7 separate regions of the Homo sapiens genome follow, and all the other regions are linked to region 5. The links come from fine-mapping of genetic effects on gene expression. A gene starts in region 5. Each other region holds a variant in brackets. All regions are shown on one strand. Distances are between the middles of the regions.

Region 1 (4,000 bases), 39 kb after region 5:
TGATGCTGGTGATGGGAATGATGGTGGTGATGTGATGATGGTATTAATGATGGTGATGATGATGATGGTGATGATGGTGATTATAATGGTGATGATGACAATGGTGACGGTGATAGTGGTGATGGTGATGATGATGATGGTGATGATGGTCATGATGATGGTGATTATAATGGTGGTGATGATGGGGATAGCGATAGTGGTGATGGTGATGATGATGGTGACAGTGATGGTGGTGATGATGGTCATGATAGTGATGGTGATGATGATGCTGGTGATGGGAATGATGGTGGTGATGTGATAATGACGGTGATGATATTAATGATGGTGATGATGATGATGGTGATGGTATTAATGATGGTGATGATGATGATGATGTGATAATGATGGTGATGGTATTAATGGTGATGATGACGGTGGTGATGATTATAATGGTGATGATGATGGTGATGGTGATTATAATGGTGGTGATGATGGTGAAGGTGATGATGGTAATAATGGTGATGGTAATAGTGACGATGATGGTGATAGTGATAGTGGTGATGGTGATGATGATGGTGACAGTGATGATGGTCATGATAGTGATGATGATGATGATGCTGCTGATGGGAATGATGGTGGTGATGTGATAATGATGGTGATATTAATGATGATGGTGATAATGTTTATGGGGATGATGTTGCTGGTGGTGATGATGATGATGGTTGTGATATAATGATGGTGTTGATGCTGAGGATAGTAATGGTGGTGATGATGATGATGATACCCCATGATGATGATGATAAGCTTTCCTGGGTGTGAGGCACTGCTCTGAGAGCTTTCCCAGACAACCCTGGAATGCGGGTACTAATATGATTCCTACTTTATAGAGGAGACAACTGAGGCACAGGGAAGTATGATGAGTTGTTTTGAGCATTTACTGACAGAACCACACATCCACCAAAGCCCAGTCTCTGAGCTTCCAGGCCTGTGCCCTTTTCACCATCCCAACGTGATCCCCCACAAGAGGTTCTGAGGACCCATGGGCACCTTGAAGGTTAACCCAGGCCCCAGAGTCTCTGATAGTGCTGAAGTGTGCGTGAGTTGGAGTGTGGGAGGGTAAGGAAGAGGCTAGACCAATCCTCAACACCAGGGAGCTCTCCTGGAGCTGCTGGCCCCAGGTCTCTGCCTCCCTATCCAACACATGGCTATTGTGGGGTAAGTTCCCAGAAAAGCCTCCCAGGCTGGCCCTGCCAGGCAGCACAGGCGCTTTCCTGGTGGCTTTGGCTCTGCTTGTCTTGCGGTTTTCCATTTTTACCTCCTCAGCATGGTCTCCCAGATCAATCTCCACAAACACAGATGCTTTCTGCGAATGGAAACCACAGAGGTGTGGATGGCAGGCTTGGGTGAGCTGGAGAGGAACGTTGATTCCCTGGGAGGAACAGTGGCCCCTGGCCCTTGGGGCAGCCGGGGCAGACCCTGGTGATGACCATCAGGTCCCCAGATCCTGGCAATGCTGAACGAGGGCTCCTGGGACGCTGGGCAGAGCTGACGGCAGTATGGACTGTGAGGTGCCCATGTAGGAGAAGGATGTAGGAGGGATATGGCTTTCTCACCCCTCCCTACTCACCTCCCATCAGGGCCCTGAGACCCCAGAGGGTCTCCTCCAACCTCATCCTCTGAGAACTCGGGCCTCCAGGAGATGGGGCAATGCCCAGATCTTGGGGAGCCGGGCTGCTCCCACCCCAGCCCTGCTCGACAAGGCAGCACTCCTGCCCCACAGCCTGCCTGTGGGCCACACTCCACACCAAGGAGCAGGAGACCCCCCCCGGGATGTGAACGGCTTCAGCGGCTCAGGGTTTTGCTGTCCCAAGGCCTCCAACGGGGCACCTGGGCCAGCCCAGAACGTGTGTCTGATGGGAGCATTTGAGTCAACTCCAAGGGCAGTGTCTGGGGGTGGGTGAAGGACTTCCCAAGAGCCCTGGAATGAAAGCAAGGCCCGCCTGGCAAGCAGCGTGTCTGGTTGTGTTACCGTCCCCACCACACAGCTTGGAGGGAGAACAAAAGCCACTTTCCTTCACACGGTGCCACGTGAGAACCCCCACAGCATGACGTGTCCCTGGACAACACATCAAGCCTGGGGCTCTGGGTGTTTTCTGGGCCAAGGTCAAGCTGAGGGCACCTCCTCTCAGGGCCTCATACACCTTTAGTGACTGCACGTTTGGCAAGCAGGGGTCAGGCTGCCCTGGGATCGGGTAAAGAGTCTCAGAGCTTGGCCCCAAGCCTCTCTAGGGTAGCAGGGGCCCAGTCAGTCCAGCTTCACAGCCTGGCGCCTGCTGAGCTGACCCCCAGGCCACCGTCCCGGGCAGGTCCAGGCTCCGGCAGAACTCCCGCCTGGACAGGCCTCCCTTCTCACTTCTATTACTAAAGGGAAAAGCTCTT[A/G]CCTCTTCTTCCTGAAGGTCATTTAGCTTTATGGACTCTGCCTCCTGTTCCTGTAAGACCAAAGAGGTTAAGTGAAGGCCGGGCTCCAAGGCAAGAGGAAAAAATGCACCGCTCCTCAGCGTGGCCCAACCTTGGCCTCCTGCAAGCCTCCGTCTGCGTGCTCGCCTTCCTGCACCTCCTGCATGCTGGCCTCCAAGTCGCTCTTCTCCCTCTCTGGGTCTTGTTTTCCACTCTCATGACCCAGCTTCCCAAGGGTGCTGAAGCTTTCCTTCTTGTCTTGTGCTAGGTTTTTCTGACTGCGGGAGGAGCAGGGAAAGTGGTTTGGAAGAGACGGCAGATAGCTGCGGGCAGCTCCTGGTCTCCTCTGGGTCTGTCTCCTTGGGCTTGAGGCTGGTGCCCCTGGGGTCTGGTGGGCACCTATGAGGTGCCCTGACCCAGCACAGAGTTCTGGCTCTGAAGGGCCCCACAGCCTGGCCCTCCTGGCTCCCTCTGCTGGCCCATCTTGCCTGGAAAACTTACCCTGTACAGCCAGGGTCTGGACTGGGATTACAGCCAACCTGGGCTTATTTTGGAAAGCAGGGTCTAACCTTGCTCAAAGAACCAAAATCTGATGAGAAGATGCAGCCACCCTGTCGCAGATCCACACTCCATGTGGATACCAAATGGGCCATGCTGGCCAGTAGGCTGGAGGGTCCACGGTTGGCCCTGCTGTTACTCGCACCAACCTCGTGACCCCTTCTGTGGTCTGCTATGGTGTGTGGCCAGGGGCAAGAGGAATGCAACAGGCAGTGAGGATGACAGGGGCTCCGCCACCATCTGCAATGGCGTTGACTTGGCCGAGGGTATTGACTGACTTGGCCAACGTGAGCAGACGCTTTCAGCTTTGCCACCCTAAAGGTGTGTGGTCTTCCCAGCTCAACTGCCCTCACCAAGGCCATCAGCTTCCCTGAGCTCTACGGAGTGGGAGGCTCCAGGCGCCGCACACATCCTGTCTAACACACGAACACTCACTCTCACCAACTGATTGCACCTTTGGCCGCTTCGGCGGCCGGACACCTTCCTTGGTCTCCACTCAACGGGAGCCATTTGTAAATAAGGGGGACTTGGCCCGTGCCTTGCCATGGTGCTGGTAAATCGACTTTGTTAGATCTGAGACAAATTTTTGAGGAATTCAATGACTTTTAAGTCTTCTTTGATGGCAGGAGGGTGAGTGGGTGGGAGAACCAGAGCTGGGTTAGAACGGGACGCGAGGTGCAGGGAGGCAAGAACTCGGCAGTACGAAGTGGGGATGTGCTGTCCAGGGCCCCACGCCCTCTCCCTAAAGGAGCACTCGAGTTGTTTACATCTAAGGTGGGCCCAGCAGTCCACTAGTGAGACGACGCCTCCTTCCCCAGAGGGCCATGGGGTGTCTACTGAGAGGGATGCAGCTGTGTGACCCTCAGGCCAGGGCCCGAGTCCTGAGGACACCACCCCGCTACAGGTGGGTCCTGTTCCCACGCTGAATTCCTCTCAAAATAAGGAGGATTTCCCAGCCCTCCCATCCAGGCCCTGCGCGGGGTCTTCGCAGGACCCAGGGCTCCCT
Region 2 (4,075 bases), 180 kb after region 5:
CAGCAGAACTGGCAGCAACACAGGCATCCTGCAGTTCAGTCCACTGCATGCAGCGTGCAGGTGTCGGAGGGCGAGGCTGCCGTGGGCTCCCGGCGGACGGTGGCAGGGCAGGCCCAGGTCTCTATCACAGCAAGGCCTCTCCACTCGGCCCCCTCCACCTGTTTACAACCTCAAGCTGGGTCAAAACCCCAGGGGTACTCAGAGGGAGTGTTTCTCCCCAACTGGATTCCTTAAGCCAGAGGGCAGGCGGCAGGGTCCTGGCCTGACAAACACACACGGGCCCCCGAACACGACCGGCTCCGTGACCGTCACAGGACGTTCAGGTGGCTTCATTTTCAGTCCACGCCTCTGGTGCCAGGGTCTTGCTTGGCACTTGTGTGAACGGCGACCACGTGAAGCCTCTGTCTTGAGAAAAGTGTAAACAGCAGCTGCCTTTCAAGGCACTGAGGCCTTCCTCGAACTCAGCTCGTTTGTGCTGCGTGGTTCCCAGTCCAAACCCTCCTGTTCACAGCCTCCTCTTGCCTCAAGCATCTTAGAGCTCCACTCCAATCCACACCCCAGCTGCCTTTTACAAAATCCCAAGCCAATGACAGCTTGAAAATAAAGTGAGAAAAACACCGACCAACATTTACTCAGCACCTACGGTGGGCTGCGGACGTTGACACAGGGTCCTCTCTAATCTTCCATACAGATCAGCCATGAGGGCCGCGGAGAGGAGAAAAGCACAGCTGAGCTGTTTTCTCTTAAAGCAACATAAACGTCAAAGCAAAACTGGAGCCCAGGACTCTCTGACTTAAGCTCATCCTCCTTCTGCTCCATCCCGGCTGTGCACACCTGGAGACCAGGCCCTCGAGCCTCCAAACGCCGTGAGCAGCCTCCTCCTGCTGTGGCTTCCAAAGAGACGTCACCAGAGGCGGGGCTGGCGCAGGGCCACGAGGCAGGCGACTGGGTCTCTTTGACCGGGGGTGGCCTCGCGGCGGCACGAGACTCAGCATCGTGTGGGTCTAGCTCTGGGAATCGAGGCAGCCCCCAGAACACCCTTGGGGCGCAACTTCCCGGTGAACGTCCCGTCTCCTCAGCCACCCACAGATGCTGCCACAGCTGCACCCTCAGGGCAACGAGCGTCTGGCGGAGCCCAGTGAGAGCCGTGAAACACAGACCTCAGGGCCAGGCCCTCTCCCCATCACAGAAACCTGACCAGTCACAGGTGGCTGCAGCCTGGGTGGTTGGTAAAAGAAAAATTATTCCTTCTATAACCAGAAAAAAATAGTGAATCAACAGACACAGAAATGCTCAGAATAAAACAAAAAATCTAAGTCAGTGGGACAGAATTCAGCAGTCCCCAGGGGGGCCTGGAAGCTGGACCCCTGCTCTGGGTCTACGGGCTTACATGGCTGCCAGGACCAGGGAGAGACAGACCCGGGCCCCTGACCATACCCTGTGCTGTAACGCCTGCAAGGTAGATTTTAAGTAATTTAAAAATTATCAAAAGGATAACATTTCATGCCTGTGAACATTACGTGCAACTCAAATCTCAGTGTCTGAAATAAGGTGAAATGGATACAGTCCGGCTCACTGGACGGCACCGTGCCTGC[G/A]GCTGCTTCCCTGCACAGCTGCATGACCCCTGGCCCTACACAGGACAGGTTCTGCGCACTCGGCCGCCACCTTCCTTACACGGCTTCTCAGGAAAGCAGCAGGCAGCTGTGGCCCAGCGTGAGCCGGCAAAGCACTTCCCTCCCAGAGCCCCGTTTCCTCATCAGCAACAAACACAACAAGCTTCCTCCCCTGGCTGCTGTGAGGACCGACAGCCCCTCCTGGCACCTGCACAGGGCATGACACGCACATCACAGCCGCCTTCACCCGCTCAGCCTCCCGCGTCCCCACAGCCCGGACCGGAGCCTCAGAGCACCAGGACACACCCATCCGGACACCGGCAGGTTTGACACCACAGACTGTGCTTGGCTGGGGAGTGAGAATCCTCCTGAGAGAGCCACGGTGTCCCAGGTCGGGGGCAGCAGAGTGAGGGTCTGGCCGTGGGCCCCGGTCGGGGGCTGAGCCACGCTCTGGTCAGGAAAGACATCGCCAGACACCTGTCATAATCCAGGGCTGCTCAAAGTAAAAAAAAAAAAAACCTAAAACTGCAACATGGAACGGCACAAACGAGCTGCAGGCCGAGTTCTAACGGGCTGAGCCTCAAACCAGCTGCAGGCCGAGTTCTAACGGGCTGAGCCACAAAGAGCTGCAGGCCGAGTTCTAACGGGCTGAGCCTCAAACCAGCTGCAGGCCGAGTTCTAACGGGCTGAGCCACAAACGAGCTGCAGGCCGAGTTCTAACGGGCTGAGCCTCAAACCAGCTGCAGGCCGAGTTCTAACGGGCTGAGCCACAAACGAGCTGCAGGCGGAGTTCTAAGGAGCTGAGCCTCAAACCAGCTGCAGACCGAGTTCTAACGGGCTGAGCCACAAACGAGCTGCAGGCCGAGTTCTAACGGGCTGAGCCTCAAACCAGCTGCAGGCCGAGTTCTAACGGGCTGAGCCACAAACGAGCTGCAGGCGGAGTTCTAAGGAGCTGAGCCTCAAACCAGCTGCAGACCGAGTTCTAACGGGCTGAGCCTCAAACGAGCTGCAGGCCGAGTTCTAACGGGCTGAGCCTCAAACGAGCTGCAGGCCGAGTTCTAACGGGCTGAGCCTCAAACGAGCTGCAGGCCGAGTTCTAACGGGCTGAGCCTCAAACGAGCTGCAGGCCGAGTTCTAACGGGCTGAGCCTCTAAGGAGGGAAACGTCACTTCCTGCCTCACACAGAGCCCAGCGTCTCCATGTCCACTGATAGCCTTGGTATTTGCAACTATGTCCATGACCATCTCTGTTTCTCCAAAACAGCCTCTAGCTACATAAACTGTTTAGAAAACCTCATGCGTAAAGCAGAGTATGTCAAACCTCCATCTGTGGTCAGGAGTTAGGACATCCCCAGCTGCAATTTGAGCAAAGACGGCGCTTCCAGAGGATCATCGGATCCTGTGTCTTGGTTGGGGTTGGGGCCCATCAACTTAAAATAGCTTCTGTTTATGCTGGTGAAGGAGGCACAGACTTCACCCTATCTAATTCCAAGGAACAGGCGAGGGTGGGAGCTGTAGCGGAAGAGACAAAAGCAAAAGGCAGATTCGCCCCTTTGTGTGGTCCCGTAAGTGACACTGTCCCTCCCTCTCCCTGGAAACAGCAGCCCCCAGGCACCCCCCCCAGCAACTGGGACAAGGGCACACCAGGCTAATTTTTAATCAGATGGATTTAGTGATAGCAAATAAAGAGAAGGAGAACAAAACCCTCAGCCAGGCTATTGTGAATGGGTGTTACCAAAAAATGGCATTAGCAGGGCACCAGGGGCCAGGCCAGCTCCAGGCAGCCCCGCATCTGCTCAGCAATCCCCGGAGTCTTCTAGGGGGCCTGGGGCAGCCGGAACCTGGCCGGGTGGAGGATTTCTACCACGAGAAAGTCAGGGCCCTCCCCGAAGGAGCAGAAGCTCTGCGGGTGACTGTTTGGGAAGCTGGTCTGCTCCTGATACTCTGCAGGAAGAGAATCACACTCTTTAGACCGGGGTCTCAGATTTCAGCCGGACGGGAACTCTCTGCAGGGCCGGTGGAAAGAGATCGCCAGCCCCAGCTCTGTAGGGGTGCGGCCTGCCTCGAGCACTTCACACGCGTGCCCGGGGATGCTGGTGCTGCAGGTATGGGGACCCCGCTAGGAGAGCCCCGGGTTAAGGGTTGGTAACTGGAGAATGGGGTGGGGGTATGCCAGCTCTCCCTGCTTGCCCTGGTCCCACACACTCAGGCCTGTGTGGCCAGCGTGGTCCTCCTTTCCCACAGCCAAGGTGCCCCGACTGCCAGCGTCCACTCCCCGTGGGGCCGCAGGGTACACCAACATCTGAGGCAGAGGCACCGCTGTGGGCTCATCTCTCAGCTCAAAGGGTTTCCAAGAGAATCCTCAGCAAAAAAGCAACACTCGCCGTTCAGAGAGTGAATGAGAGGCCAGCAGGGGGCTGGGAAGGTGCTTAGCTCAGGGAGGGCTGGAGGGTGGGACTAGGA
Region 3 (4,063 bases), 27 kb after region 5:
AACCAACCGTATTTCCGGAAGCTTCTCTGGGTGCCTTTCTGGTTGGCACAGTTGGAGGCCGCAACTGAGTCACACCCAACTGCCCGGCAGCCTGTCCAGGACAGCCCGTCCAGGGCCCATTTCCGGTTGTCTGGGAAATGATGACTCTGGGGCCGATGGGCACTTATCTTCTGTGGTGTCTTTCAGTCAAGGGTGGGTGCTGGCTTTGGGGGGTCCCCTTTCTCTCTGCAGCCTGGATGGTGCCCCACTTTGATCAGAGGAAACTACCCAGTGGGACAAGCTCTGCGTGGCATGCGGCTCCCTGAAAAGGGCCCCTCCCTCCCTGGCTGAGTGATGGGCAGAGCTCACCCTCTGGGAGCCTCTGCATTATCATGTGCACCACAGGGACGGCCCCCATGTGTCTCCACGGGAATAGACAGTGCACACAGCATCTCCGCCTGTGGCCTCTGACTGCCTTAGAGACACCCGGATCAGAGATGCTGCAGGTCACCTGCCCGTGCCCTCCTGTGCACATGTGTGGTATGTACGAGCATGTATGTGCTGTGTACATATGAATATGCACGTGTGCGTGTCTGAACGAGAGGGCTCTGGGTGGATTCTGGTGAAACTCGTCTTACAGGCATGTCCTGGAGCCCCCCACACCCCTAGGAAGACTCCCTCTCCTCCTCTGAGTGGGGAGCATGTGGCTTCCCTCCAGGGACAGATCCTAGTGCCAGCACCACAGTCTCTGTTGCTCTCGCAGTCACAGCCGGGGCTCAGCTGCGTCCACCGTGCTCCTGGCTCCTGCAGGGACTTTGGTGACACAGCAGATGCTCCATCCCTGCCCTGCACCTCTCACTCCTGCCTGGTGGGGGTGCTTCCAGGAGCTGCAGCTCACACGAGGCCCACAAAGGGCTGAGCCTCCCCTGCTGTGCCCCAGGGGCCTCTGTCCCCACCCAACAAGCCACTGAGCAAGAGGCCAGGGCAGGAAGGGGCTGGAGTCCTCCAGCTGGTGGAGACGAGGAGCAGCTGGTGGAGACGAGGAGCATCCGGTGGAGATGAGGAGCATCCGGTGGAGATGAGGAGCATCTCGTGGGGAGGAGGAGCATCTGGCAGAGACGAGGAGCATCTGGCGGAGACGAGGAGGAGCATCTGGCGGAGACGAGGAGGAGGATCTGGCGGAGACGAGGAGGAGGATCTGGCGGAGACGAGGAGGAGGATCTGGCAGAGAGGAGGAGTAGGATCTGGCGGAGAGGAGGAGTAGGATCTGGCGGAGAGGAGGAGCATCCGGCGGGGATGAGGAGCATCCAGTGGGGATGAGGAGCAGCTGGTGGAGAGGAGCAGCAGCTGGTGGAGACGAGGAGCATCCGGTGGAGATGAGGAGCATCTCGAGGAGAGGAGGAGCATCTGGTGGAGAGGAGGAGCATCCCGTGGAGACGAGGAGCATCCCGTGGAGACGAGGAGCATCTGGCGGAGACGAGGAGCATCTGGCGGAGAGGAGGAGTAGTATCTGGCGGAGAGGAGTAGTATCTGGCAGAGAGGAGTAGTATCTGGTGGAGAGGAGGAGTAGTATCTGGTGGAGAGGAGGAGCATCCGGCGGAGAGGAGGAGCATCCGGCGGAGACGAGGAGCATCCGGCGGTGACGAGGAGCATCCGGCGGAGATGAGGAGCATCCGGTGGAGAGGAGGAGCATCTCGAGGAGCGGAGGAGCATCTGGCGGAGACGAGGAGCATCTCGTGGAGCGGAGGAGCATCTGGCGGAGACGAGGAGCATCTCGTGGAGAGGAGGAGCATCTCGTGGAGAGGAGGAGCATCTCGTGGAGCGGAGGAGCATCTGGCAGAGACGAGGAGTAGTGTCTGGCGGAGACGAGGAGTAGTGTCTGGCAGAGACAAGGAGTAGTGTCTGGCAGAGACGAGGAGTAGTGTCTGGCGGAGAGGAGGAGTAGTGTCTGGCAGAGACGAGGAGTAGTGTCTGGCAGAGAGGAGGAGCATCCGGCGGAGACGAGGAGCAGCCGGCGGAGACGAGGAGCAGCCGGCGGAGACGAGGAGCAGCCGGTGGAGACGAGGAGCATCTCGAGGAGAGGAGGAGCATCTCGAGGAGAGGAGGAGCATCCGGTGGAGAGGAGGAGCATCTCGCAGAGAGGAGGAGCATCTCGCGGAGACGAGGAGCATCTGGCGGAGACGAGGAGGAGCATCTGGCGGAGACGAGGAGTAGGATCTGGCAGAGAGGAGGAGTAGGATCTGGCGGAGAGGAGGAGTAGGATCTGGCAGAGAGGAGTAGGATCTGGCGGAGAGGAGGAGTAGGATCTGGCGGAGAGGTGGAGTAGTATCTGGCGGAGAGGAGGAGTAGGATCTGGCGGAGAGGAGGAGTAGTATTTGGCGAAGAGGAGGAGCATCCGGCGGAGACAAGGAGCATCCGGTGGAGACGAGGAGCACCCGGTGGAGACGAGGAGCATCTCGAGGAGACGAGGAGCATCTCGACGAGAGGAGGAACATCCGGTGGAGAGGAGGAGCATCTGGTGGAGACGAGGAGCATCTGGTGGAGAGGAGGAGTAGTATCTGGTGG[A/AGAG]GAGGAGTAGTATCTGGTGGAGAGGAGGAGCATCTGGTGGAGAGGAGGAGCATCTGGTGGAGAGGAGGAGCATCTGGTGGAGAGGAGGAGCATCTTCCCGTGCTTGTTTATTGTGTTTGTTGAAGGTCACGTCATCACTCACCCAGTGGGCAGTGGGTTTCAGGCGTGGCTCACACCTGGTGTGGTCATCGGCACCCCAGCGTTGCTCAGAGCTGGCGGGATCTTTAGCCCAAAGGCGCAGTCTGTGCTCTCGCTCCTTCCAGGCCTGGCCAGTCCCACAAGAAGAAAACAGAAACCTCAGTGCCTGGCAGAGAAGGCTCTTGGGCGGCAAGTAGGTGGCCGGATCGCCCTCCGTCCCGCCTCCTGTGCCCCCAGCCCCTCTGCACCCCGTCTCCTTCCTCTTCTTCGCCAAGCTCTGAGCACCCTCTCCGGGGCGCTAGGTGCTCTCCTTTGCCCTCTTCCTGGTGGAGTACGGGATGCAGCACACCCAGCTGGTCTGCATCCTGCAGGGCGAGAGGAGGGCAGGTGGGTGAGAAAGGGTCCTGGGCCAGCACTGTGGCCACAGGCACCCCGAGAGCAGCACCCCCAACCTGAAGTGCACTGGGAGGTCTGCCCTGCACTTGTGTATGCACCCCCTTTCATCAAGTGCACTGGGGAGTCTCCCCTGTACCTGCATATGCACCCCCGTTCATCAAGTGCACTGGGGGGTCTCCCCTGTACCTGCATATGCTCCCATTTCATCAAGCACACTGGGGGGGTCTCCCCTGCACCTGCATATGCATCCCCTTTTATCAAGCACACTGGGGGGTCTCCCCGCACCTCTGCATGCAACCCCTTTCATCAAGCGCACTGGGGGGTCTCCCCTGCACTCTGCCTGCACCCCCTTTCATCAAGCGCACTGGGGGTCTCCCCTGCACTCTGCATGCACCTCCTTTCATCAAGCACACTGGGGGGTCTCCCCTGCACTCTGCACCCCCTTTCATCAAGCACACTGGGGGATCTCCCCTGCACCTCTGCATGCACCCCCTTTCATCAAGCACACTGGGGGGTCTCCCCCGCACTCTGCCTGCACCCCCTTTCATCAAGTGCACTGGGGGGTCTCCCCTGCACTCTGCCTGCACCCCCTTTCATCAAGCACACTGGGGGTCTCCCCTGCACTCCACATGCACCCCCTTTCATCAAGCACACTGGGGGTCTCCCCTGCACTCTGCCTGCACCCCCTTTCATCAAGCGCACTGGGGGGTCTCCCCTGCACTCTGCCTGCACCCCCTTTCATCAAGCACACTGGGGGTCTCCCCTGCACTCTGCCTGCACCCCCTTTCATCAAGCACACTGGGGGTCTCCTCTGCACTCCACATGTACCCCCTTTCATCAAGCACACTGGGGGTCTCCCCTGCACTCTGCCTGTACCCCCTTTCATCAAGCGCACTGGGAGTTCTCCCCTGCACTCTGCCTGCACCCCCTTTCATCAAGCACACTGGTGGGTCTCCCCTGCACTCTGTATTCACCCCCTTTCATC
Region 4 (4,070 bases), 46 kb after region 5:
ATTCAAGGTGTGAGGAGGTGACTGCAGCACCATCCCCAGGCCCACACCACCGTCCGTTCGGCACACCTGGAAACATCTCAGAGTGGCGAGTGTGGACCGACACAGGGGCAGCCTACACGTTTCGCGGTTTAGAAGCCAACCGTGTCAAACACCAGCTACGCAGGTTCCTTGCTGGTGGGTGAGGCCCAGAGCTCCTGGCAGGGACCCAGGCCCTCACCAGGGCCTTCTTGCAAACGGGGCGCCTGGCTATGATCCTCCCTTCAGGCATCGGCTGGCTTCGGAGGCCCATGAGGGTCCCAGGCCTGCCCTCCTCTCACCCCTCCCGCCCTTGGCTGTGCCCGGCTGGAGCCCCCACAGCTCCGCCCCAGCAGCGCAAGGCCTTCCCAGCAGCCCTGGGTGGGTTACGGGTGTGGACCTGGAGTGCTCCCCACTTCCACCCTTAGCGTTCCGAGCACAGGGCAGCGGGAGGCAGGAGGCCCGGCCCGGTCCCTGCTGCCGGTGGAAGGAAAATGAATCTTGGGCCCTGAATCACTGAGCTAAGGGGAGGAGTAAGGCTGGGAATGTGTCAGACAAACCTGCCTCCCATCCTCTTCCTAAACAAGAGCTGCAGAGATAAACGGCCACAGGCCTCCCTCATCATTCACCCACGAGGAAATTCCTTGTGAGCCTTAAGATCTCTGCCCTAAGCAGTTTTGTGGAGTTTCACGCTGGGAATGCACGTGGACAGCTGACCGTCAACAGGCGCAGGACAGGGACAGAGATCACGGTCCTCCCTCTGCTCACCTGAGACAAGTGTGTCCGACAGCTCCCTCTGGGCTGCTCATGAAAAACCGCAGTCACGGAGCCGGACGAGGATACAAGTGACTCTCCCTCTAGTCCCCTCACGTGTAAATTGTGTGTTCAGTGAAAGGCTGATCGAGACCCAAAGAATGCAGCCCTGTGTCTCCTCTACCTACGACCTGGAAGCCCCTCCTGCTTCAGGCTGTCCCTTTCCGGACAGAACCGACGTACCCCCTCACAGGTGCTGATTGATGCCCCACGCCCCCCTGCAATGTATGACGTCAGGCCGTGCCCCGCCTTGGACACACGTCGTTGGACCTCCTGGGGCTGTCTCGGCGCATCCCTAACCTTGGGAACTTCCTAGAACTTTCTAACTGGGCTGGGCTCTGACGCAGGTACTTTGGGTTCAGTGCCTGGTGGGACAGCCGCGCCGTCCACCCGCTCCCCGCGGCCCCACAGCCCCTACCCAGCTCCTTGTGAGGCTTCCTAGGGCGGCTGGGAGGGTCCCCCTCGGGCTGCAGGCCTCCCAGACTCCTGCTTCGCTGAAGTTCAGAGGCCTCACTGGCCGCCTTGAGGTGCCCAAGGGCCACTCCTGAGGGCAGGGCCCTGAGGCCGGGCCGGTGCCTCCTGTGTGTGGTCCCCGTGTCCTTCTCCATCCTCCAGCCCAGCCTCGGCTTGAGCACAAGGCTGCCACCCTCACACCCAGCCGTCCCGCAGGGAGTAGTCAGGAGGTGCTGGGAGTGCGTTGCCATGGGTCTGCTGTGACATCACTGTAAGGTCAGAGGCCAAAGATCAGCCGATCCCTGGCAGCACAGCGTGGCTTTCCTGCAGGCCGGGGCTGGGGCGGGTTCTGCGTCTTCCCTTCTTCTTTCCCGCAGGCCGGGGCTGGGGCGGGTTCTGCGTCTTCCCTTCTTCTTTCCCGCAGGCCGGGGTTGGGGCGGGTTCTGCGTCTTCCCTTCTTCTTTCCCGCAGGCCGGGGCTGGGGCGGGTTCTGCGTCTTCCCTTCTTCTTTCCCGCAGGCCGGGGTTGGGGCGGGTTCTGCGTCTTCCCTTCTTCTTTCCCGCAGGCCGGGGCTGGGGCGGGTTCTGCGTCTTCCCTTCTTCTTTCCCGCAGGCCGGGGCTGGGGCGGGTTCTGCGTTTTCACATCTCTGGTCTCTCCACCAGGGAGGGCG[G/A]GGAACTGGCACCAGCCCTAGCAGGGCCTGCAGATGAGACGCCGGTCTCCCTCTGTGACAGGGTATTTGAATCTTTCTCTCCCTATCAGGGCAAATGGGACACAGATCAACTCAGGAAGACAAAGGCAGCCCCTGCAGGCAGTGGTGGGGTGCAAATGCTGCCGGCCCAGCGCCTCTCCCCACCCACACGGCGCCAGGACGAAACCCTGATGTGGCCGGGGCTCCGGCGAGGGCTTTCCGGGCCGACGGTGTGAACTGCACAGGTCAGCGTGGGTTTGCTGGCACTCCCAGGCAGGCGGCTTAAACAGCGGGAGCTCATTCCCTCCGGTGCTGGGGGCAAGGTGTCTCGCAGCGCTGGTTACCCGAGGCCTCTCTCCTTGGCGCGAAGATGACGTATTCCGTGTCCTCACGTGGTGGTCCTGTGTGCTGCGTCCTCGTCTCCCCTTCTCATGAGGACGCTGGTCACACTGGGTCAGGGCCTCGCTTTACCTTGACAATCTCTACAGCTCCACGCCCAAGTGCAGCCACACCCTGAGGTCCTGAGGGTCACAGGGTCACAGCTCCAGCATGAGGATTTGCCGGGACAGAGTTCAGCCTGTACTGAGCCGAACAGAAAATCCCCGGCACGCTGTCTCCTCCAGCCTCCAGACCACGGTGGGTGGGGAGGCAACATTTTACCTCTTGGGGTTTTTTGGTCGGGCCTGATAATTAAAATCAGCAGATGAGCTGGAGAAAGGCACACGCACTCCAGCACGGTCTGTGTGGCCGGGAATGGCCTTTCCTTCCTGAAAGAGGAGGTAACACCCCACGGGGAAGACGCTCTCCAGAGCCAGAAGAAAGCAGCGTTCTTATCCTTGTGGATGGCTGTTTCAGCTCAAAACAACCCTTACAACAGTGTGGCTTATTTGGGCAGCCCCTTCTGCCCCTTGACAGGCACCTCGCGAGCCGGCGCACCCCCCCGCCCCCAGGACCCGCTTCCCGCACCCGGGGCTCCTCAGCCAGGGGGAAGCAGGTGTGACCCCCAGGCTGCAGGCTCCCCTCCTTCTGATCTCTTCTTTTGAAGAGCCCACAGCCTCTCAGCACCCAGGAGGCCTCAGCTCTCTGGGCAAGTGGTGGGTGCAGGGTGGGGGCCTTGGCCTCACACACGCTCTGGCACTGCCTGGCCTCCTGGGACGGTTCCTCAGAGGCACCTGCTTTGGACACTCTGATGTCGGGAGCCCCGCGGATGCTGCCAGGATGGGAGAGGAGGCCGCTGTCTCTCTCCAACAAGTGCTGGGTCGTCTGGAGCAACAAGGGCAAATGGGCGTCACTGGGGTCTCCACAAAGCCACCTGCAGTCTCTTGGTGGGTGTATTAGACAGTTTCCATGCTGCTGATAAAGACATACCTGAGACTGGGTAATTTATAAAGAAGAGGTTGAATGGATTCAGTTCCACATGGCTGGGGAGGCCCTGCGATCATGGTGGAAGGTGAAAGGCACGTCTTACATGGCAGCAGCAGGAGAGAATGAGACCAAGCAAAAGGAGAAACCCTCATAAAACTTTCACATCGGATCTCGTGGGACTTATACCACGAGAACAGTATGGGGGAACCGCCCCATGATTCAATCACCTCCCACCAAGTCCCACCCACCACACAGATTCAATCACCTCCCACCGGGTCCCGCCCACCACACAGATTCAATCACCTCCCACTGGGTCCCGCCCACCACACAGATTCAATCACCTCCCACCGGGTCCCGCCCACCACACAGATTCAATCACCTCCCACCGGGTCCCGCCCACCACACAGATTCAATCACCTCCCACCGGGTCCCGCCCACAACACAGATTCAATCACCTCCCACCACACAGATTCAATCACCTCCCACCACACAGATTCAATCACCTCCCACCACACAGATTCAATCACCTCCCACCGGGTCCCGCCCACCACACAGATTCAATCACCTCCCACCGGGTCCCGCCCACAACACAGATTCAATCACCTCCCACCACATAGATTCAATCACCTCCCACCACACAGATTCAATCACCTCCCACTGGGTCCCACCCACCACACATGGGAATTATGGGAGCTGCAACTGAAGATGAGGTTTGGGTGGGGACACAGCCAAACC
Region 5 (4,075 bases):
ACAACGTCGTGAATCCAGCAAATGCCGCCGAAGTATATGCTTCAAGATGGCTGTTAAGTGAATTTCACTCCATAAAAGGTGTGTTTTAGAGGGTTATGCCCATGAGCGAGCCTACCTATACATGTGCAGTGTCACATTACTGAGACGATTCTGTTTAGAGCAAAGCCACCTACCTCCCACGTCCCTTTCCAGCCTGTCTTCTTAGCCACCTGCCTCCCACATCCTTCTCCAGCTTTGTCTCCTTGCATGCAGCCCTCTCAGGGCTTTTGAGGCCTGGAGGCCAAGGGTGCTGGGAGGTCCCACTTTGTACCCTCTCCCGAGAGCTTTGAGGGGTACCTGCCGCCTCTAGCTGTGCCTTCTCTGTGCCCTTCAACTCTGGAGTGAGGTCAGATCTTGGCTCTGGGGCCACCACCAGCTGTTTCAGGCTTGCAAAGTTCTGTCCGACAAAATACAGCTCCGCTTCCCTGTGGGGGGAAGCATTGGCCCCAACAGGCCTTCTTCACCAACGGGGACAGCAGTCCCTTGAGTGGAGCCCTGGACTCAGGGAGCTCTGGTCAGTGAAACTCTCAGCTAGGGGCTAAGGGTATGGGGACCTTCATATGTGGGACAGGCTCCTCGCTGGGGACGCTGCCACCAGGCCTGTGAGGCAGCCAGCCAAGTTCCACTTGCTGCAGCTGGGGCTGCTCTGGACGGCCAATCCAGACACCTCCCCCCTCTCCACCCTCTTTCCATCCTCAGGTTTGCATTTCTTAGGTCTGGCACTTCAACTGCAAAGTACAAGTCCTGGGCTATCTCCTCCTGCTCTGCTGAAGGCCACATCGATGCTTGGAAGGTAGGGTCAGCCCAGTCCCTTGCTCCACACACCCAACTACACTGATGGAGCGACCGTCTACACAGGGATCCTACGGTGGGGAGTGAGCCTTGCTGGCCTGATGCATGGCAGTGGTTCCTGCTCCAATAAGACCAAGAATAATTAATAACTGTGACTAAGTTAGAAGCTTTGGCTGCATCTGAATTCACCAGCGTTTCCAGCTCCTGAGGCCATGTGCGGTGTCACCTCACTCCTGGCAGACAGACTCCCACTCGGAGGATGATTTTTCATAGCCAGGGTCGCTCTGTGGACCTTGGATGGACCAACGTGCTTTCCATGTCCAACTTTGTCAAGATCCGGGGAAGATTCTCCAGCAAGTCTCTTGGAAACATGTGCATGTGGCCCCAGGCGACGTGAGGGGTGCAGTCTGCCTGCGTTATGCAATGCTCAGGCCAGTTTTCCCTGAGAGAGGAATGCTGCCGATCCTCTGCGGTAACCCACAAAACTCCACGGAGATGCTTGGAAGGAAAAGCATCGCGTCCTCCAGATGTTTTGAAATGTTCAAGTATTTAAAAGGGAAATGGAATTTCTGTTTATCCTTTTAAGTGACAATTATTCATTGCGTCTTCCTGGCCACAGCTCATTCAGCACTACTGCAGATCCGGCCAGACCCCCAGGAGCCGCGGCCCCTGCACAGCCAAGGCCAAGAAGCTCCCATCGTGGAGGGGGGCGCATTCCGGACCTGTGAGGCCCGGGGTTCGTTTTTATGCCTCCTTAAAGGGATGAGCCAGAGAAGAAAGTCTTCGCAAAGCCTTTGCCCCAGGAGGGGCGGGGCTGCGCAGGGCGCCTGTGGAGGCCGTGGCCGGGCAGGTGGGGAGGCTCACACACAGGCCAGAGGCTTCCCTGGAAACTGACGCCCTAGGGCAGGTCCAGCTCCTGGATGGTCGCAGGTGAAGAAACGCCAGGCCCAAGGGTCCTGGGAGAGAGAGGGGAACAGCGCCCAGGAAGAGGTGCAGGTTCCCAGGGACTGCAAGGGCCGCCGCCACCCTCCCACACCCCACCCTCGCTGCATCACCAGTCAGCCCAGGGCAGGCTGCTGACCCTCCCTTGGCCTCAGTTTCCTCATCTGTAAAATGGAAAAAGAAGCATGTCCACCTCACCAGTGGTCACAGTCACAGGTGCTGACATGGAGAAGGATTGATGCGTCCTCCTGAGTGCTGCCTTGTCATGCTATAAACCAGGAGGCCTGGCTCTCTGCCTCCCGGGAAGGTCTGTTTCTAATCCTGTGCTGGGTCTGCGTGGCTCCATGGCCTCAGAGGCTGACACCGAGTGTGGTGTCCCTGGGTCACCGTGCTCCTTGGTTTGGTCCAGCAGGAGAAAGGGCAGCCTGCCAAGGAGAAGGCTGTGAGCTTGGCAGGGGAGAACTTAGGCGCTGTGCCTTTGGGAGGCTGGGATTTAGATCACAGCTGGGAAGCTAAGTCCTGACTGCACTGGCCGGAACCAATGGGCTCCAGTAGCCGGATGCTCTGCCAAGTCAGGAGGTAATAACCGCCACGGCCTGGGAGAGAAGCTGGCACAGCCGTGGGCCCCTGCCCTGCGGTCTGGCCTCGCAGGTCCCCAGGCCGTGTACAGACACTGTGCGGCAGGGAAGCAGAGGCAGCCATGGGGAGCAACCCTGTTTCTCAGTGCTACATGCCTACTCTCCCTGAGCTGATGTCTGGAAGACAGTAAAGGAGACCTGAGGCAGTGCTGCCCCTCCTTCCGTCTGCCACCTCCTCAGGGCTGGCCCAGGCCCTGCAGAGCAGGTGGTGGTGGCTGCTGGTGGTAAAGCCCGTCCATCCAGAGCCTCGCTCTGCTCCCAAACCACCCACCTCCCGCTGCACATGTGGCAGCTTCAGGAGCCTGGCGGGGCTAAGAGGAGATGACAGACCCCAGCAAGGACAGGCTCAGCTTCTTGGGGACCGAGTCATTGCCTGTTGCTTCTCCTGGGGGCCTCGACTGTCCGAGTGTGTTCAGGCACACGGTGCCCTGTCTGTTTCCCAGGCACTTGGGCCAAGGCTGGACAGGGAGGTGCCATGTGGGACGAAAGCCCAGGCTGTGCAGTGCTGGTCACCGGGAGTGACCATGGGTGAAGTCGCGCTGTGAGTGACTGCCTGTTATCACTGACCACGCAGGGCCATCCTGGGTGACCCGCTGTGCCACAAGCAACTGGTTCACATTGGAGCCCCCCTCTGGAGCCCTGGGCAACCCGCTGCCAGTGGGCCTTTCTCCTGAGGCCCCTGGAGTCCCGGAGCATCCCGTGAGTTCATCTGCCATACCTGTGATTGCCATGTGGGCCCAGCGCCCTCCAATGGAAAAGCTGCATTCAGTTCTGCCCGAGGATCCCAGGCCTACGACACTGTCCTCAGGCTGCCAGGGAGCAGGAGGCTGTGGGGATCTGCGTTCTTGCCAGGCCTGGGAGCAGCAGCCAAAAAGTGGACTTACGTGGACAAAATGTTGGGCCAGGGAGGAGCCCTCGGCTCTGGACGGATGTCTCTGGTGCTTTTATGCCACGTGCATTTCTGCAGATTTGATGCCCGGCAGCCAGCACTGGGCTGTGGCCATGGTGGTGAGGCAGCCTTGGGTCTGCACGAGGCTCGGAGGCCTCCAGGAACCTCCCAGGAATGTGACTGTGCCTGGAGAGAAGCGCCATCTGCACGGCGCAGTCCAGATGCTTCTCTCCTACAAGCCCATCATCAAACACACAGCTGCCCAGACTTCAGCAGGATTTGTGCACAAGAAACGCAAAGGCACAGTCCATCGGGTGAGGCAGAGGTGGAAGGAGCACCGGGGTGGGAGTGGAGGAGCACCGAGGTGGGGGCGCAGGAGCACCGAGGCGGGGGCGCAGGAGCACCGAGGCGGGGGCGCAGGAGCACCGAGGCGGGGGCGCGGGAGCACTGAGGCTGAGCTGTCTCTAGTGATCTCTCAAGCCTCAGTGCAGTGGCCACAGGGCAAGGTGCCTCCTGGTGTGTCCTCGCCTCCAAATCAGGCTGCTCCACTTCCCAGGTCAGAGTCCTGGGGGGTTGTGTTGACCCTGAGCCCCCACGAGCATCCAATCCAGCAGAGCTGGAAGGACCCAAGAACCTGCATTCCTCATGGCTCCCATCATGCTTCCGGTCCAGGAGCCACCATCCAGACCACACTCCCATTCATCCCCTGGCCACGGAAGCTGAAGCCTTGGTTTCCCCACCTGTAAAGTGGGAGTATCAACATCACCCACATCAA
Region 6 (4,075 bases), 210 kb after region 5:
TCACATATCAACCCATTGACAAGTGGACATTCATTCATTTCCAAAACAGCATTATTAGATCATGTCTGAACAATCTACTTTCAAAGGATTTGAAGCCACATAAATGACCAGTACACAACGGAATAATTTTTGGAGGGTTCAAAGTAAGAACTGAAGGAAGAACGGTGGAATCAGGTATCTGAACCTGAAAGAGCCCATCCTGCCAGGTGCATCCCAAGGGGCTCACTGGGCCTGAATTCAAAATGGAGGCACGCGACCTTTTGCTCACTAGAGGTCACACGCCAGCTCTGCGTTCCCGGAAGTGCTGGAAATTTCACAGCTGTCTGTTCATGCTGCTGGAATCAACCAAGGCCAGAAAATCCCAATTTGCCCTCTGGACCAAACCAATAGACTGCTACCAGGCTCTACCAAACAGAATGAAGCAAGTCTGCCTCCCTTATCTGCATAAAGGCCAGAATGAGATCCTGGGCAGGAATTCCCTTGTGGAAGACAATCGCATGTTTCTTCTCTGGAATGCACCTTTGTTTTGTTCCAAAGGCAGCATCTCCCAGTTTGCAAACTGCTTGCTGGAATAATGTCTCTTTCCCCTTTTTTTTTTTTTTTTTGAGATGGAGTTTCGCTCTTGTTGCCCAGGCTGGAGTGCAATGGCGCAATCTCGGCGCTCACCACAACCTCCGCATCCCAGGTTCAAGCAATTCTCCTGCCTCAGCCTCCCGAGTAGCTGGGATTACAGGCATGCACCACTATGCCTGGCTAATTTTGTATTTTTAGTAGAGACAGGGTTTCTCCATGTTGAGGATGGTCTCGAACTCCTGACTTCAGGTGATCCGCCCGCCTCAGCCTCCCAAAGTACTGGGGTTACAGGCGTGAGCCACCGCGCCCGGCCTGTCTCTTTCCTTTTAAAAGAAATTTTTTTAGTGGATTTGTTGACACATGTAAGGTGAGAACAGCTGAACGTAAAGCTACACACTGAGCTTCCGGATAGCCAAGGTGAAAAGGGAAATATGGAAATATGAATCTTACACAAGTCACATTATCTGATAAAAGGAAGCATGTCAGACTTTCAGGAAAGACAGTACTTTAGCCCACAAGGCAATACAAGAAATTTTTTAGGGAATTCTTTTCAAAAGGAATATTGGACAAGTTAGGGGAGGATGTTTTTAATCTCAAATGACACTCACTACAGGGCCTAGAACATGGTAAATGCTCAATGAATGTTTGTTGAATGAATGTAGTAAAAATATAACATTAAATCATAATTCTCGCATAAAATTTATGTAGGCACTTAGAAGTCAAAGAAAGTAGCTTTCTAGTGACCTGATGAGCTGCGAAAGAACACATTTGGAGAATCTAGAGAGATGAATAAATAGCCACCGAAGAGTCTTTCTCAAACATTAGTTGAGCCACACAACTGAGAGAAGCAGACAGGTCCACTCCAAGATTCCTGTGGATGCCGAGGCCTGGTGGTCTGTGTTGTTGATGGACAGGAGACGCAATGCTGTGCTGGGTTTATCAACTACAGTCGGAGGCTCAGGTGGGCCTTACCACGGAGCATCATGGTCTCGCTCTCATCTTCTTGAAATGCAGAGAGAGAGGAAAGAAGCAGCCTAGACCCCCGAGTCA[T/C]GAAGCAGACAGCAGTGGGTGTAGACACGGTGGCGGTGGGTGTAGACACGGTGGAGGTGGGTGTAGACACGGTGGAAGTGGGTGTAGACACGGTGGTGGGTGTAGACATGGTGGAGGTGGGTGTAGACACGGTGGAGGTGGGTGTAGACACGGTGGTGGGTGTAGACACGGCGGTGGGTGTAGACACGGTGGAGGTGGGTGTAGACACGGTGGTGGGTGTAGACACGGTGGTGGTGGGTGTAGACACGGTGGAGGTGGGTTTAGACACGGTGGTGGGTGTAGACACGGTGGTGGGTGTAGACACGGTGGAGGTGGGTGTAGACACGGTGGTGGGTGTAGACACGGTGGCGGTGGGTGTAGACACGGTGGAGGTGGGTTTAGACACGGTGGTGGGTGTAGACACGGTGGTGGGTGTAGACACGGTGGAGGTGGGTGTAGACACGGTGGTGGGTGTAGACACGGTGGCGGTGGGTGTAGACGCGGTGGAGGTGGGTGTAGACACGGTGGTGGGTTTAGACACGGTGGTGGGTGTAGACACAGTGGTGGTGGGTGTAGACACGGTGGAGGTGGGTGTAGACACGGCGGTGGGTGTAGACACGGTGGCGGTGGGTGTAGACGCGGTGGAGGTGGGTGTAGACACGGTGGTGGGTTTAGACACGGTGGTGGGTGTAGACACGGCGGTGGTGGGTGTAGACACGGTGGTGGTGGGTGTAGACACGGCGGAGGTGGGTGTAGACACGGCGGAGGTGGGTGTAGACACGGTGGTGGGTGTAGACACAGCGGTGGTGGGTGTAGACACGGCGGAGGTGGGTGTAGACACGGTGGTGGGTGTAGACACAGTGGTGGTGGGTGTAGACACGGTGGAGGTGGGTTTAGACACGGCGGTGGGTGTAGACACGGTGGAGGTGGGTGTAGACATGGAGGTGGGTTTAGACACGGTGGAGGTGGGTGTAGACACGGTGGTGGGTGTAGACACGGTGGCGGTGGGTGTAGACACGGTGGCGGTGGGTGTAGACACGGTGGTGGGTGTAGACACGGTGGTGGTGGGTGTAGACACGGTGGAGGTGGATGTAGACAGGGTGGTGGGTGTAGACAAGGTGGAGTTGGGTGTAGACACGGTGGTGGTGGGTGTAGACACGGTGGTGGTGGGTGTAGACACGGTGGTGGGTGTAGACACGGTGGTGGTGGGTGTAGACACGGTGGAGGTGGATGTAGACAGGGTGGTGGGTGTAGACAAGGTGGAGTTGGGTGTAGACACGGTGGTGGTGGGTGTAGACATGGCGGAGGTGGGTGTAGACACGGTGGAGGTGGGTGTAGACACGGCGGTGGGTGTAGACACGGTGGAGGTGGGTGTAGACATGGTGGTGGGTGTAGACACGGTGGTGGTGGGTGTAGACACGGTGGCGGTGGGTGTAGACACAGTGGAGGTGGTTTTAGACATGGTGGTGGGTGTAGACACGGCGGAGGTGAGTGTAGACACGGCAGAGGTGGGTGTAGACACGGTGGTGGGTGTAGACACGGCGGTGGGTGTAGACATGGTGGAGGTGGGTGTAGACAGGGTGGTGGGTGTAGACACGGTGGAGGTGGGTGTAGACACGGTGGAGGTGGGTGTAGACACGGTGGTGGGTGTAGACACGGTGGCGGTGGGTGTAGACACGGTGGTGGGTGTAGACACGATGGTGGGTGTAGACACGGTGGAGGTGGGTGTAGACACGGTGGTGGGTGTAGACACAGTGGCGGTGGGTGTAGACACGGCGGTGGGTGTAGACATGGTGGAGGTGGGTGTAGACAGGGTGGTGGGTGTAGACACGGTGGAGGTGGGTGTAGACACGGTGGTGGGTGTAGACACGGTGGCGGTGGGTGTAGACACGGTGGCGGTGAGTGTAGACACGGTGGAGGTGGGTGTAGACACGGTGGTGGGTGTAGACACGGTGGAGGTGGGTGTAGACACGGTGGCAGCACCGCACGGAACACTCAAAGCCCACTTTCTGGCTGTGATGGCCGAGGAGAGCTGCCTCCCCTCCGAGTGGCCCATCCTAGGTACCCTTGAGCCTCACAAGCTCAGTTGCCAACCTCCCTGCTTCAGGGAGGGGTGGGGCAGCGGGTGGGACAGGAAATTCACCAGGTTGTGCAGGGCAGGGCAGGAGAGCAGAGGGAGACGCTCACGCCCCCGCCCCCAGGCCCGCAGAAGCCGTGGGTGCTGATGAATGCCCCTCAGCCCACAAATCCCTGGCACCTTGACTGTGACAACGATCGCGGCTGCTTTCATTATACTTAGGAGTTGTGAACCACCGCGTCAATTACTTTTATTTCTTCAAATAGTTTCCTGTGAAGCTAACTCATCTCCCCAGATTGTCTCCCAATTTCTTCGTCTGTAAAATGGGGCTGGCAGCAGTGCCCGCCCGCAGGCCTGTGCCGGGACCAAGCTGCGTGTGCTGTGTGTCCTGTGTCT
Region 7 (4,075 bases), 65 kb after region 5:
AAAACAAAGGAATGAAAAAATAGGTCCTCTAAAGAAACTTGGCAGTACAGAGGTTACAAGTTAAATTCCATCTAAAAATTATCTATAGAACCTATTATACAGGTAATTGTCCCCCAGATAGCTGCCTACCCTGCAAAAAGCTTTTCGCATCCATCCGTGCTACAAAGACAACTACATGTAGCCCACACTACACCAGAGGCTCAGACCACAGGTTTTCACCCCACAGCATGCTCCTGAGGCCGGGGCCTCGCCAGCCATCCCCTCGCTGCACAGATCTGTGTGCCGGGCAGACTCACCCTGCATCTTCTCCAGCTTGCTCATGTACAAGTTGAAGAGGGAGTAGATACGCTCCGTCTCACGGTCCCCATCAATGTCCAGCTGGATGTTGGCTGGGAGGCCGCTGTCCAGACACAGCAAGAACAGAAAGATAAAAACACTTATTTAAACGATGCTTTTAATAATGACATTCATTTTTAAAATGTCACTGAAGAAAGACAACGATTGTGTTGGAAGTGAAATTCGACAGGATCGATTTGCTGTCCGTCTGTGCACAGCCGGTGTGTTGGCTTGCTGAGCAAGGCTGACAGCGTCCACAGCAGCACGGACAGCAGTGTCACCAGGCTGCAAACCGGAACTAACTAGCAACCTCTGCTTCAGTTACCATTGGCCTATTTGGACACGTGGCAAAAGATCCTTGCTGTTTAGTATTTAAAATGTGCTTATCATTTGTACTAACTGACCTTTCCTGAAATCACGCAGTACTGAGTTATGTCTTGTTTAAATCTATTCCTACTCCAGAATCTTATCAATACATAAGAAATTTAGGAAGACTAGGTGCTAAAATCCCCAGTGTAATATGTAATACTTGTACATTTTTAGTATCATACAGAACTCAATTCCCAGGAACTATGAACACTCCAGACCTCATGTGGTTTATTCCTTCAGTCATTTCAAACACAGAAGGAGGCTGTGTGCTTGTTTCCCTGCTCATTCTATGTCTGCTTCTCCTATGTTCACACCAGCACACGTCAGGCTGGAGCGCGGTGGCACGATCTCAGCTCACTGAAACCTACGCTTTCTGGGTTTAAGCGATTCTCTTGCCTCAGCCTCCTGAGTAGCTGGGATTATAGGCACACACCACCACGCCTGGCTAATTTTTGTATTTTTAGTAGAGATGGGGTTTCACCATGTTGGCCAGGCTGGTCTTGAACTCCTGAGCTCAGGTGATCCACCCACCTCGACCTCCCAAAGTGCTAGGATTACAGGCGTGAGCCACTGAGCCCGGCCTCATGTCTTTTTATAAATCTTACTTTGTGTTATTATGAAAAACCTCCATAGCCGGGTGTGGTGGCTCACACCTGTAGTCCCCACACTTTTGGGAGGCCGAGGCAGGTGGATCATCTGAAGTCAGGAGTTCAAGACCATCCTGGCCAACATGGTGAGACCCTGTCTCTATTAAAAATACAAAAATTAGCCAGGTGTGGTGGTGCACACCTATAATCCCAGCTGCCTGGGAGGCTGAGGCAGGAGAATCGCTTGAACCTGGAAGGTGGAGGTTGCAGTGAGCCGAAATCACACCACTGCACTTCAGCCTGGGCAACAGAGCGAGACTCTGCCTAAAAAAAAAAAAAAAAAAAAAAAAAGAAAAGAAAAGAAAATCTACATTGTACAGAAGCACGTCTTTGATGGCTTCAGACAAAGTGGCCTCACGGTTAATTTCACATTTGCACGCAGGTGCAACCAACAGGGAGGGCCTGATAGGAACGCGCGGGGCTGTTATTTTTAGCAAAATGCTGCCTTGTGCAGAACGTGTGAAATATGCTCTTTAATTTAGTAAATACTTTTTAAAAGGCAGAAATGCTTATTATAGCTAAAACAATTCTTAAATCATAAAATTTCTGAAACGTCTGTAATTTTTTCCATACTGATTAGAAATTGTTTCCAACTTATTTTTGTTTGAAGTATGACAGTTTTTCCCTTTTCTTCCCAACTTCTCTTGTAAAAAAAGAAGTGGGTTTCTGCTAATGAACTGATCAGATGTCAATACTGTATATGCCTTTTGAGCTGAGTAGCTCAGTATTTGGATACTTGGTCATTTGTTTTATTAGGTAATTGATAAAATTGTGTCACTTATTCATGTTCAACCATATATTTATGCTGTCTGGGGATGGGTGGTTATAG[T/C]TCTGTGTGAGAAATAATTTGTCAGTCTTCAACAGCTTGTAAAAACTTTGCAGTGAGAGCTTAAACATCTAAATAAATAATGAAATGCATTTATCATAAAAAAAAGAAGAAAGAAGATGAAGTGACCAACATTAAAACACATCCCTGGCCAGTCAGGGAGTTCATGTGGGTAATCCCAGCACTCTGGGAGGCCGAGGCAAGAAGGATCGCTTGAGCCCAGGAGTTTGAGCAACACCACCCTGGGCAACATGGAGAGACCCTCACAGTGAGACCTGGCAACATAGTGAGACCCCGTCTCTACAAAAAACCAAAATTTAATGAGCTGGGCTGGTGGCATCAGCCTGTAATCCCAGCTACTTGGGAGAGTGAAGTGGGAGGACTGCTTGAGCCCAGAAGTTTGAGACCAGTCTGGGCAACGTGGTGAAACCCCGTTTCTACAAAAAACCTTAAAACAATTAGCCTGGAATGGTGGAGCACACCTGTAGTCCCAGGTACCTGGGAGGCTGAGGTGGGAGGATGGCTTGAGCCTAGGAGGTCGAGGCTGCAGTGAGCTGAGATTGCACCACTGTACTCCAGCCCGGGTGACAGAACGAGATCCCATCTCAAAGACATAAAACTAAAAAAGCATCCCCGAGCTGGGAGAACTGAGGCTGGCTGTGGGTGTGCGGGATAGGGGAGGCTCCCGAGCTGTCCGGCCTCAGCGGCTGGAGCCTCTTGGGACCCACAGATCTGCCAAGGCAGTGAGCAAACTCGGCAGACGTGTTCTCATGGAGATAAATGGCCTGGAAGGAAGCCTCCTGGGACTGTGTTCCCTGCACGGTCGGCTGCGGGTGGGGACAGGCCAGGTTTTCTCTCCTCGTCAGGCTGCAATGCTTCCCGCTGTCCTGGGATGCGAGGACATGGGAGAGCGCTGGCCTCTCCTGGGGGATTCTGGGGCGGTGGCCACGCATGCCTGAGCAGCAGCCAGGCCCCCTTCCTGAGCTTCAGCCTCTGTGTCCACGAAGCAGGATCTAAGGTCCCACCTCTGAGGCTGTGGGAGGATTAAACGGTGGCCCAGCATGGAGCACAGCTCATCCCCTGCAGGGCCCTTATGCGAAAGCATCACGTGGCCACAACAACAGCGAGGTGCATCTCACGGAGCATAACCAGGGGGACCGCCAGGCACCCAGGCCTCCTCCTTAGGACCGGCAGATATGACCCAAGCCTCTGTGCAACTGCCAGAGGCCCGGCTGATGGGGGGCCCTGCTGATGGGGGGCCTGACAGGGGGCCCAGCTGACGGGGGGCCCAGCTGACGGAGGACCCAGCTGATGGGGGCCCGGCTGATGGGGGGCTGGCTGACGGAGGACCCAGCTGATGGGGGGCCCGGCTGACGGGGGCCCGGCTGACGGGGGCCCGGCTGACGGGGGGCCCGGCTGACGGGGGGTCCGGCTGATGGGGGTCCGGCTGACGGGGGGCCCGGCTGACGGGGGGCCCGGCTGACGGGGGGCCCGGCTGATGGGGAGGCCCGGCTGATGGGGAGGCCCGGCTGATGGGGGACCCGGCTGATGGGGGGCCCGGCTAATGGGGGGGCCCGGCTAATGGGGGGCCCGGCTGATGGGGGACCCGGCTGATGGGGAGGCCCGGCTGATGGGGAGGCCCGGCTGATGGGGGACCCGGCTGATGGGGGGGCCCGGCTGATGGGGGGGCCCGGCTGATGGGGGGCCCGGCTGATGGGGGGCCCGGCTGATGGGGACCCGGCTGATGGGGGGCCGGGAAGACAACGGGCTGCTGCGTCATGTGGAATCAAGGTGGGTGTCCTGGGCCAGACGAAGCTTTCAGGGAGGGGCTTGCTCCCAGCCTCCTCCTAGAGAAGCAGGATGGCCACGGCCTGGGGAGTCCCCCTTCACCCTGACC

What was found.
Region 1: its variant is fine-mapped to the expression of SWINGN in whole blood (TOPMed, PIP above 0.99).
Region 2: its variant is fine-mapped to the expression of SWINGN in whole blood (TOPMed, PIP above 0.99).
Region 3: its variant is fine-mapped to the expression of SWINGN in whole blood (INTERVAL, PIP above 0.99).
Region 4: its variant is fine-mapped to the expression of SWINGN in whole blood (TOPMed, PIP above 0.99).
Region 6: its variant is fine-mapped to the expression of SWINGN in whole blood (TOPMed, PIP above 0.99).
Region 7: its variant is fine-mapped to the expression of SWINGN in whole blood (TOPMed, PIP above 0.99).

What each region holds. Positions count from the first base shown.
Region 1 is chr13:113,966,047-113,970,046 of GRCh38, forward strand. It overlaps C13orf46 (chromosome 13 open reading frame 46), which reads right to left. Exons shown (of 7, transcript NM_001365455.2): 3 at 2,549-2,714; 4 at 2,421-2,468; 5 at 1,295-1,342. Among named protein-coding and RNA genes, the nearest start is that of C13orf46, 6.0 kb to the right of the region's middle. The variant A/G (reference allele first, on the strand shown) is at 2,419.
Region 2 is chr13:114,108,874-114,112,948 of GRCh38, forward strand. The region is part of intron 1 of RASA3 (RAS p21 protein activator 3); the gene reads right to left. It overlaps RASA3-IT1 (RASA3 intronic transcript 1), which reads right to left and starts at 906. Exons shown (of 2, transcript NR_046544.1): 1 at 1-906. RefSeq lists enhancers at 1,199-1,834, 3,735-4,075 and a silencer at 2,506-2,660. The variant G/A (reference allele first, on the strand shown) is at 1,596.
Region 3 is chr13:113,953,793-113,957,855 of GRCh38, forward strand. It overlaps C13orf46 (chromosome 13 open reading frame 46), which reads right to left. Exons shown (of 7, transcript NM_001365455.2): 7 at 1-3,047. The coding sequence ends at 2,981. Among named protein-coding and RNA genes, the nearest start is that of C13orf46, 18 kb to the right of the region's middle. The variant A/AGAG (reference allele first, on the strand shown) is at 2,545.
Region 4 is chr13:113,972,562-113,976,631 of GRCh38, forward strand. C13orf46 (chromosome 13 open reading frame 46) reads right to left here and starts at 1,515. Exons shown (of 7, transcript NM_001365455.2): 1 at 1,247-1,515. The coding sequence starts at 1,436. The variant G/A (reference allele first, on the strand shown) is at 1,953.
Region 5 is chr13:113,926,692-113,930,766 of GRCh38, forward strand. SWINGN (SWI/SNF complex interacting GAS6 enhancer non-coding RNA) reads right to left here and starts at 2,300. Exons shown (of 1, transcript NR_047495.1): 1 at 1-2,300. It also overlaps a transcript of C13orf46 not described here.
Region 6 is chr13:114,136,519-114,140,593 of GRCh38, forward strand. No RefSeq gene overlaps it. Among named protein-coding and RNA genes, the nearest start is that of RASA3, 5.9 kb to the left of the region's middle. The variant T/C (reference allele first, on the strand shown) is at 1,624.
Region 7 is chr13:113,992,189-113,996,263 of GRCh38, forward strand. RASA3 (RAS p21 protein activator 3) reads right to left here. Exons shown (of 24, transcript NM_007368.4): 22 at 297-400. Among named protein-coding and RNA genes, the nearest start is that of C13orf46, 20 kb to the left of the region's middle. The variant T/C (reference allele first, on the strand shown) is at 2,182.